Regions from separate parts of the Homo sapiens genome. Here region 2 is linked to region 1. The links come from fine-mapping of genetic effects on gene expression. A gene starts in region 1. The other region holds a variant in brackets. All regions are shown on one strand. Distances are between the middles of the regions. Region 1 holds the start of CDKN2A (cyclin dependent kinase inhibitor 2A). Region 2 overlaps MTAP (methylthioadenosine phosphorylase).

Evidence for each region. PIP is the estimated chance that this variant, and not a neighbour inherited with it, causes the effect. A credible set is the group of variants that fine-mapping cannot tell apart.
Region 2: its variant is the best candidate, but not a certain one, in a credible set for the expression of CDKN2A in lung (TOPMed, PIP 0.78).

Annotation. Positions count from the first base shown.
Region 1 is chr9:21,972,672-21,978,056 of GRCh38, forward strand. It overlaps CDKN2A (cyclin dependent kinase inhibitor 2A), which reads right to left and starts at 2,186. Exons shown (of 3, transcript NM_000077.5): 1 at 2,007-2,186. The coding sequence starts at 2,156. RefSeq lists silencers at 2,144-2,193, 2,414-2,513 and an enhancer at 2,694-2,743.
Region 2 is chr9:21,853,063-21,858,447 of GRCh38, forward strand. MTAP (methylthioadenosine phosphorylase) reads left to right here. Exons shown (of 8, transcript NM_002451.4): 6 at 1,569-1,808. Among named protein-coding and RNA genes, the nearest start is that of MTAP, 53 kb to the left of the region's middle. The variant G/A (reference allele first, on the strand shown) is at 2,611.

The DNA of each region.
Region 1 (5,385 bases):
CAGGTTTATGATTTGAGAGTTCATTAAACAAGAGATGGTCACCTCTTTGGTTCCTAAATCATCTTGGAAACAAAGCCATTTCCAGAGAGGAATTTTAAAATACTGTCTGCAGTCATAGCAACCTTAAAATTTGAGTGCTGCATGGTGGAAGTAGACAATTTATTTTAGGATAACTGTTATTTGTTATATTAGTTTGAGGATGGTGGTGTTAAAGAGGAGTTACTTATTTTTAGGTACATTTCATACTAAACACAAATTGCATAATTTGCCTAAATCAAGGAATTATACTAAATTATATTATGGTTATTAAATCCTGTCCTGAGAAAGTGAAACTGACTCAGTTTTCAAAGAGACAAAGAGAAAGTATAAGCAAACCAAATTGCAGCTACAAAAAGAAAGACAAAATGTTGCAGTATATTTATTGTTTTGTGTATTCAATGAAGTCCTTCGTCTTGGTCATAAAACTAGCCTTAAAGGTTTTTCTTATATTTCATAGTATGAAAAATCTAAAAAGTAACCCATATGTAAATATTTAAATCATGATAGAAATCCAAAGCAAAAAGAAAATGAATCAATTGAATTAAAATGTGTAGGATGCTTAAACCCATTTGATAATATATCCATTTGATAATATACTAATATGAATTTAGTACTTTAAAATGTTATATAAATAAATGTTCCTATATTAAACACCAATGTAGTTAGGATTCTAAGCCAACATCATTTCCCCTTTTCTACATGTTCTTCTCCCGTCTCCATTAAAAATTGTCAAAACTATCCACTTTTCTTTTTCCTTTTTGTTTTTAAACAAATAAGGTCTCTTCTAAGATATTGTAGGACTACAAAGCCAAACTCCCGGGTTCAAGCTGTTGGCAAAATTTTAGAGATGCTAAGTTACCCATGTATTAATTACTTTTAAATCCTCCCCTAACTCCCTCACAAAACAGGAGTAGGGAGAGGAGAAACACCTCTGTTCAAAAATGAGGAATTGAAAACTCTTATCACAAATAAACTATATCAAGTAAGCTAAAGATAGTAAAAGAGCAAAAATGTTAGCAGATATTCCCAAAATGGTAACTACATATTACCTCTGGAATGATCACATGAATGTGGCTCATTATTTCCTAAGTTCCTACAGCAAACATATATTTATTTGCCCTACTCAGTTAAAAATAAACACAATATGTAGTTGCTTCTGAATAATTTTTCTCTCTCTCTTTCTCTCTTTCTTTCTTTCGACAAAGTCTCACTCTGTCACCCAGGCTGGAGTGAAGTGGCTCCATCTCGCTGTTCACTACAACCTCAGCCTCCCGGGTTCAAGCGATTCTCCTGCCTCAACCTCCCGAGTAGCTGGGATTACAGGCGCCTGCCACCACCCCCGGCTACTTTTTGTATTTTTAGTAGAGGCGAGGTTTCACCTGTTGGCCAGGCTGGTCTCGAACTCCCGACCTCAGGTGATTCCCCCCGCCTTGATCTCCCAAAGTGAAGGGATTACAAGGCGTGAGGCACCGCGCCCGGCCGCTTCTGAATAATTTCGATCAAAATTTATATTCGATATTTATTCCAACATACACCACAGATTTCCACTGATAATCCCTCCTAGTAAGAAAGATAAGCTCCATCCAGGTATCTGTGAATTGGAGGCTAAGTAGTCCCAGCACATCTTACATTTCTTTAAGACTCCCTTTTTATCCCAAACGTTCGTAAATTTTGTATCTGATAAAGAGCATACTTCCATCTAATACAAATATGTTCCCCCCTTCAGATCTTCTCAGCATTCGAGAGATCTGTACGCGCGTGGCTCCTCATTCCTCTTCCTTGGCTTCCCAAGCCCCCAGGGCGTCGCCAGGAGGAGGTCTGTGATTACAAACCCCTTCTGAAAACTCCCCAGGAAGCCTCCCCTTTTTCCGGAGAATCGAAGCGCTACCTGATTCCAATTCCCCTGCAAACTTCGTCCTCCAGAGTCGCCCGCCATCCCCTGCTCCCGCTGCAGACCCTCTACCCACCTGGATCGGCCTCCGACCGTAACTATTCGGTGCGTTGGGCAGCGCCCCCGCCTCCAGCAGCGCCCGCACCTCCTCTACCCGACCCCGGGCCGCGGCCGTGGCCAGCCAGTCAGCCGAAGGCTCCATGCTGCTCCCCGCCGCCGGCTCCATGCTGCTCCCCGCCGCCCGCTGCCTGCTCTCCCCCTCTCCGCAGCCGCCGAGCGCACGCGGTCCGCCCCACCCTCTGGTGACCAGCCAGCCCCTCCTCTTTCTTCCTCCGGTGCTGGCGGAAGAGCCCCCTCCGACCCTGTCCCTCAAATCCTCTGGAGGGACCGCGGTATCTTTCCAGGCAAGGGGACGCCGTGAGCGAGTGCTCGGAGGAGGTGCTATTAACTCCGAGCACTTAGCGAATGTGGCACCCCTGAAGTCGCCCCAGGTTGGGTCTCCCCCGGGGGCACCAGCCGGAAGCAGCCCTCGCCAGAGCCAGCGTTGGCAAGGAAGGAGGACTGGGCTCCTCCCCACCTGCCCCCCACACCGCCCTCCGGCCTCCCTGCTCCCAGCCGCGCTCCCCCGCCTGCCAGCAAAGGCGTGTTTGAGTGCGTTCACTCTGTTAAAAAGAAATCCGCCCCCGCCCCGTTTCCTTCCTCCGCGATACAACCTTCCTAACTGCCAAATTGAATCGGGGTGTTTGGTGTCATAGGGAAAGTATGGCTTCTTCTTTTAATCATAAGAAAAAGCAAAACTATTCTTTCCTAGTTGTGAGAGCCCCACCGAGAATCGAAATCACCTGTACGACTAGAAAGTGTCCCCCTACCCCCTCAACCCTTGATTTTCAGGAGCGCGGGGTTCACTAAGTCAGAAACCCTAGTTCAAAGGATTCCTTTTGGAGAGTCGGACTGCTCTCTCCTTCCCCTCCCCTTCCCCTCCTGCGTGTAAAACGGCTGTCTGGGGCAAGGGTTTCTCAGACGTGTACATTGCCTGGTATAAGAGCAGACTCTGAAAAGATGAGGTTTATTTAATACGGACGGGGGAGAATTCTGCCTGTAGGCAGATAGGAAAATGGGGAGGGAGTCATTGGAAGGACGGACTCCATTCTCAAAGTCATAATTCCTAGACCAGAAAAAGTGCTCAGTGTTCTAGAAGCAGAGTTGCACAGTGATCCAAAGACCAGCTTCAAATACTGTCCTGTCTCCTTCACACTTCTCACATTTCTCTTTCCTACTGAAAATACCTTGCATTTTTCGTAATTATAAAGGGGGAAGGGAATATGAGTGCCCCCTGCTTTATAGGGGTTGTTGTGAGTTTAAATGATGTATTAATACATATAAGCCTTAAGAACAGTGCCACACATCCTAAGCTAATACCTGTTAGCTCTTGAATTATCCGCTTTGAGGACTGGCTTGCAATCTTGTTTTGAGGCATAGAAAGAAAATGCTTTGGAGCAGGACGCGGTGGCTCACACCTGTAATCCCAGCACTTTGGGAAGCCGAGGCGGGCAGATCACCTGAGGTCAGGAGTTCGAGGCCAGCTTGGCCAAAATGGTGACACCCCGTCTCTACTAAAAATACAAAAATTAGCTGGCCATGGTGGCGCACGTGTGTAATTCCAGCTACTCAGGAGGCTGAGGCAGGAGAATCGCTTGAACCCGGGAGGCAGAGGTTGCAGTAAGCCGAGATCGCGCCACCACCCTCCAGCCTGGGTGACAGAATGAGACTCCGACTCAAAAAAAAAAAAAAAAATGCTTTGGATAGAATTATCACTATTACATAAAAGGAAAGTCCGGATGCGGTGGCTCACGTCTATAATCCCAGCATTCTGGGAGGCCGAGACAGGCGGATCACCTGAGGCCAGGAGTTCGAGACAAGCCTGACCAACATGGCGAAACCCTGTCTCTACTAAAAAATACAAAATTAGCGGGGCTTGGTGGCGCATGCCTGTAATCCCAGCTACTCGGAGGCTGATGTAGGAGAATCGCTTGAACCCAGGAGAAGGCGGAGGTTGCAGTGAGCCGAGATCGCGCCATTGCACTCCAGCCTGGGAGACAAGAGCGAAACTTGGTCTCAAGAAAAAAAGAAAGAAAGAAAGAAAGAAAGACCAAGAAGAACTTACTCCCTGAAAAGATTATGGGCACCCTCCACCACCCTCACTTACAAAGAAAAGTTAAACAGCACTAAAGAGTATAACAAGCGCAAGGAGGTAAAAGTTCTAATTTTTCCTGTGACTACTACTTTTTAAGCTTATCAAAAACATGTACTACGTTTTAAAAAATGGATTGCTCAGACTTTGCTGATGCCTTAAGCACATGCTTAATCTGCCTACTGGATAATCCAGCTCTGTTTAAAAGTTATATTTCAATCCCTGGTTGACTTAAACCTTGTAGACCCAGTATATCTTGTACTTTTAGTGTCTGCTTGATTTTAAAACATGTAGTTTTTAAAATGAAGCCAATGAAAACAATTTGGGATGTCAAGTATGTTATTAAAATCTACAATGCATTACTGTACCATTTATATTTTCCTCGGGGTACCTCTCAATTAGCTGTGTAGCAATGATAGGGAAAATTCAAACTATCGATAAATAAAATTATTTTAGTTTAGTTTAAGATATTTTATGATGGAGGAGGAAGAAAGTGGTTGCCAGGATGGGAGGGAGGGAACACATTTCCATCACTAATACAATGGTTCTTTCTTTTTGTTTGTTTGTTTTGTGTGTTTTTTTGAGATGGAGTTTCGCTCTGTTGCCCAGGCTGGAGTGAAATGGCACCGCACGATCTCTCTCGGTTCACTGCAACCTCCGCCTCCCGGGTTCGAGCAATTCTCCTGCCTCAGCCTCCCGAGTAGCTGGGATTACAGGCACATGCTGCCATACCCAGCTAATTTTTGTATTATTAGTAGAGACGGGGTTTCACTATGTTGGCTAGGCTTGTCTCGAACTCCTGACCTCAGGTGATCCACCCACCTTAGCCTCCCAAAGTGCTGGGATTACAGGCATGAGCCATCGTGCCCGGCCTACAGTGGTTCTTAATGGGGGTGGGAGAGTGGGAAGAGTAGGCTCCTTCAAGAGTCTGTTGAAATAAATACCTTCTTCTCAAAAAAGAAAGTAGGTAATGATTTTTTTTAAAAAAGATGTGTTCACTTGCACATGTATTTCTAGATAAAACTTTCAGTGAATTCAGGGATTTCTCTGAAACTCTACCATGGATTCCTACATCAAGAACTCTTTCAGCTCTTGTGAAAAATATATATAGCTATTGGTGAAGAAGATGGGAGATGCAACCATATAAAAACAACATTTGGATGCATTATAAACAGGTGTAAAAGTTGACTGCTTTGGAAATACCAAGAACAAGTTTTAGATATGTATATCTCATATCTTGCAGTAGAGCTCTGGAAGGATTATG
Region 2 (5,385 bases), 120 kb before region 1:
TGCAAAATGCTGGTTCAGGTGGCTGACATATATTCATAGCCTCCATTTCTTCCTCCTCCTCATAAGCATGGTACCTATCTCCCAAAGTGCCAGAGTGACAGTGAGGACTTGTCAAGAGCCATTCATCTCTAGAAGCACTGTGAACTTTAGCCAAGCATATGGTTCAGTTATTCAGGATCTTTAAAGACATTATTGAACCAGCGGGAGTGGGCTTGTTATGTCTTAACTTTAGGGGGGAAAAGGGGGTGGGGTAGAGATTTAGGCTTTTGCATTTATAACATATACTTTTTAGGGAAAAGTGTTAATTAAGCATAATTTTATTTTCAGCATTTATAAGATAAACATGATGTAGCATCAACTGTTCATTGTCCATAGCTTGCTAAATTTTGAGTTGCCAAGACTCTTGTGAAAATTCTGTTTCCCATTGCAGTGGCATAGTGTAAGTTATTTTTTAAGGAAATAGGTTAATTTGTTTATGTGATGAACACATGTGCAGGTGAGACTTTGCCCAGATTGGAGACTTTGACTTTGAGTCACTCCACTTTATTTATATAGTATCCCAGGAAGGTTAGCCAAATATGTGTAGAAGCTGCCAGTATTAATGATTGTTAGAAGACCAGCTTAGTGCATACAGTGTTTACAGCGCACCTGGCATGCTTCTATGCTTGTATATACCTTAGTTCATTTAATCTTCCTCATACAATTGAATTATGCGATATCATTATTCTCAATTTACACTTGAGAAAACTAAGGCATACAGAGATGATTTTTCAACAGTGCTTCAGTAAGTTAACAGTTAAGTTGAAAAGACTTTTTTTTAATTAAAAGGGAATATTGAATAAGCTAAGAAAAAATGAAGGTAATTAATAACTTGAAGATTAGATGTGCAGTATTAAATAAAACACTGGAGAAAAGGATCGAACTTTTCAATGATGTTTCTAAAAATCCATGCCTAGCCTTGCCACTAAAGGAATTCCAAGATGTTTATCCCTGTGAACAGAAAAACAATCAGCACAACTCTGTGGAAAGGCAATAGGCAAAAGAGAAATCACTTTCTAACCAGCAAAAGCTTTTACAGAAGTCTTCAGATTCTGTATTTTTAAAAGTAATGAGAATTAACTTTTCAGAAGCCTGGAAATAGAACTCAACACACCTGTTTGAGAAGATAAGCGACGAGAGGCACCTTAGCTTAGCCTGCGAGGTTAAAAGTTAAGACTCCAGTCTGTATTCTCAAACCAGCTTAGTCTCTTAAAGTTGTTAAGAAGCAAATGAGATTAAAGCATATAAACAAATGCCTGGCGAGTAGAAAGAGCTCAGTGCTTGCTTGTGTAGCTATTAGTTTCTACATGCAAAGGGCTGGGGAAACAGGATTATGTGAATGAGAAAGGGTCCAGGAAACACCCTTCTGTGGTCCTCTAGGTTTTTTCTGAGAGCCTGGCAGATAGTAGGCATTTATTATAGTGACAAATCATCTTTAAGAAATCAACTTGGTAAACATTGGGGGGAAGTGCAGCCTTAAGTTGTGCATGTGCTAGTATGTTTTGAAGTTTCTGGTTTTTCTTTTCTAGGTTCTTATAGAGACTGCTAAGAAGCTAGGACTCCGGTGCCACTCAAAGGGGACAATGGTCACAATCGAGGGACCTCGTTTTAGCTCCCGGGCAGAAAGCTTCATGTTCCGCACCTGGGGGGCGGATGTTATCAACATGACCACAGTTCCAGAGGTGGTTCTTGCTAAGGAGGCTGGAATTTGTTACGCAAGTATCGCCATGGCGACAGATTATGACTGCTGGAAGGAGCACGAGGAAGCAGTAGGTGGAATTCTTTTCTAAGCACATATAGCATGGGTTTCTGGGTGCCAATAGGGTGTCTTAACTGTTTGTTTCTATTACGTTAGTTTCAGAAAGTGCCTTTCTACAAGGTTTTGAAGTTGTTAATATTTTCTGTAGTTCCATTGGAAGGTAAGAACAAAGATCAAAGGAAAGAAAGAGACACTTTTACCCAAGGATCAGTAGTGAAAATAGTACATTGTAGGCAGGTAGATGTGTTGAGAATCATACTAAGACTTGGGCCTTATTTTCAGGATAAAGGTGTATTTTGATTGCCAATTTCTGCTGCTATGCTACTGTTTTTTGTTTTCAAGAAGGAAAAAAATCTATTAACCCTTTCCTCATGAGAGGGCTGTATGTTCACATCCATCTATTTAACGTACCGTGGCTGGATACTCTGTTCAGCATAGAAATGTGACAACAAACAGAGAAGTCCTTAAGGAGCCGACATTCTGTCGGATGGAGATAGAAGTTAAGCAAACCAATATAAGAAAGCTAACGGTTATAAAGAAATAGAATGGTGAGGTACAAGGGTACACTAGGTCAACTGAATAGAGTTGACCAGACCAAATATTTGAAGTATGAGAAGCCTTCCTGTTTTAAGTGTGATGGGCAAGAAGGGCATGATTGAGTAGAGTGGAAAGGAGGGAGACTGGGGAGAAGGGAGAGAGAGGAGGGATGCAATACAGTAGGGCCAGGCCATACAGACCATGGTAAGGGTTTCAGATGGAAGGACAGTGAGGGGTTCAGGCAGGGAAGGCAGCAGGATCCAGCTGGAATTTGA[G/A]GACACTGGAACAATGAGGTCAGCTTCCAAAACAAAACAAAACAAAACTTTAAACATCTGTGTAAGTACAGGGTGGAATATAATGAATTCCAGGTACCCATCACTTAGGTTCCACAATTAGCCATGGCCAATCTTGTGTGATAGGTATGTCCCTACCTATTTCTCCCCTGCCCTCATTGTGAAGTAAATATTTTCCTAAAAGGTCTTTTTAAAATTAAGTTATAACCATGCCATCATTGTACAAAAATAATGATATTAATTTCTTAATATAATCAAATATTCAGACTATTCCTTTTTCCTTCAGTCTCATAATTTTTAACAATTTGATCAAATCAGAATCCCTTACAATCCATATGTTGTATTTTAATGATTACCTCTTGTCTCTTTTAATCTAATTTTCACCTCTTTCTCTTTTTATTCCTTGTGTTACTTGAATAAACTAGATCGTTCGTCCTGTCATTTATCTCATTTTAAGATAAAGGGACGACAAAACTGCAGTCACTTTTGAAGTAAGGAAAACATTTAGGGGTGACTTTCTGAGCACATTTAGGGTAAGTGACATCTCCAAAGAGGCCTAATATTGTACCACCGTTTTAGAGAGTTTGTTTTACTATCTAATGTGTACAGTGTTTTGGGTCATAGATGAACACAGGTTCTTTGTTTTTCATGAATTCCTTATGATGACTCTTCAGTGTAATAAACTGTTTGCTTAGTACTAGGATGCCTTTTATGTAAGAGATTCGCAAATTATTACATTAAGTCACAACATAATATCTTATTTGGCAGCTTTGGTAACCTAAGGAACAACTCAGCCTCGTAATGTCAAGAAGCTGCTTCCAATTAATAGGAAACTCCAGCCCCTGCCACACCCTGAGAGCGGTTTGCTTCCTGCCTGTGGCTTTCTGCTCAGTCTAATAACATATGTCTCCTCCTTTGTAGAACCAGCAGTGATTTCCTTTAGTAGCCAAATGAGGTTGGGGAAATAGTCAGCTGGAGCTACTTTATTGAAAAGCAGAGAAATTAAGCTCTGTAAGTGGAAAGGCTTGAAGACAGTGTTAAATGCTACAAGGAAGGCCCACAGAAAGATGGCATTATTTCAGCCAATCGTGTGTTGCAGCCTGGCATGGCAAAAAGGATTTGGAGTTCTCTAAACCCATCTTCAGATTTGAGTTGCTCCATTTGCTTGTCACATTGGGCGAGTTATTTCACTTGTTTACTCTTCTGTAGAATGAAGCCAGGGCTCTGGGTGAGGAGTGGAGGTTGTTTAGTCATTGTTTAGTCAGTTAGACCTTGAAAGATTACTGGAAGAATTAAACCAAATGAGATATGTAAAAAAGCTAGTATAATGCTGGCTTGTAAGAGGGTGGTCATCAGATGGTGGCTCTGATGGAGTGGGGGGCCTGAGAGGTGGGTAGTATCAGGGAAAAGCATTTAAACTGCACCTTGAAGAGAGGGTTTATTTTGGGAAGGTCAGTAGGAAGGACATTTTGGGTGAAGCCCAACAGCTGGAACAAAGAGAAGGGAGGTCAGTGTCTATACAGAAATAACCAGTCACAGGAAAAATATATAAGGAAATGAGTAAATACAAGGCAAATTTCTTGGATGCTTCATGTCTGCATTCAAAGACTCAGCTTAAAACATATCATTTACATGTGCCTGGCAGATACCCAGCCTGTCACTGCTTTGTGTTCCCATAGTAGTGCAAACTCCCCTCTGCTACAGTGTTCATCATTTTTTCCTATACACATCTTGGTGTTTGTGGGTGGGATCTGGACTATGCTTAAGGAAATAGAAAGATGTAATCCTTGTGTCCCTGAATGCTGGATTTCTTCGAAGCATAGGAAGGCATGTCAAGTACTCTATCTCTGATGGTAATTTTGTGTTCACTTTCTTCAACTTTTTCTTATGAAGCTATTTTAGTCATATACAGAAGTAGCTAATAGCACGAGCTTCCATGAATTCAGCATCTAGCTTCAACCATTATATTAACTTACAACCAATATGATTATTACTCCCATCAATAATTTTATCCATAAACACTTCAGGAGGTATCTAACATGAGCACATTATCATTTTCATTCTCCAATAATAATTCTTTAATATACCCAGCCAGAATTTAAATTTCTGGTTAAATGCCTTAAATTATTCTTTTGGTTGCAAGCTTTTTATGAAGGAACCAGATCATTTGTCCTGTTGAGTTTCCCACAGTCTGAATTGCTGAAATCATCTCCTTGGAGTAGTTTAATAGGCTTCTCTGTCCTCTGTATTGTCTATAAATTGGTAGCTAGATTTAGAAATTTAATCAGATTCAGGTGTCTTAAGGTAGCATTTTATTTTTTCATCAGGAAGCACATAATGAGTGGTTTATTTGGGATTTTGTTTGGTTCGGTTTGTGATGTTAGCAGCCAATCCATTAATTCACTGGGAGCCATAAAAATGGTGGTATTTTAATTCCATAATATTTTTCTTTAGTAGCTGGAATAATTTTCTAAGGAGAAACGTACCTGTTTGGTTTTCCAGTGTAGCAACAGTTTTAACATTGTAATCCCTTCGGCTGTGGACATGAAGAGAACAGCCACATCTTTCTAGACCATATTAACCCATTATACATCTGAGATATTTTCTCCGATACCATATTGAAATCTGTATTAGTCTGTTATCACATTGCTATGGAGAAATACCTAAAACTGGGTAATTTATAAAGAAAAGAGGTTTAATTGGCTTATGGTTCTACAGGCTGTACGGGACGTGATGCTGGCATCTGCTCAGCTTCTG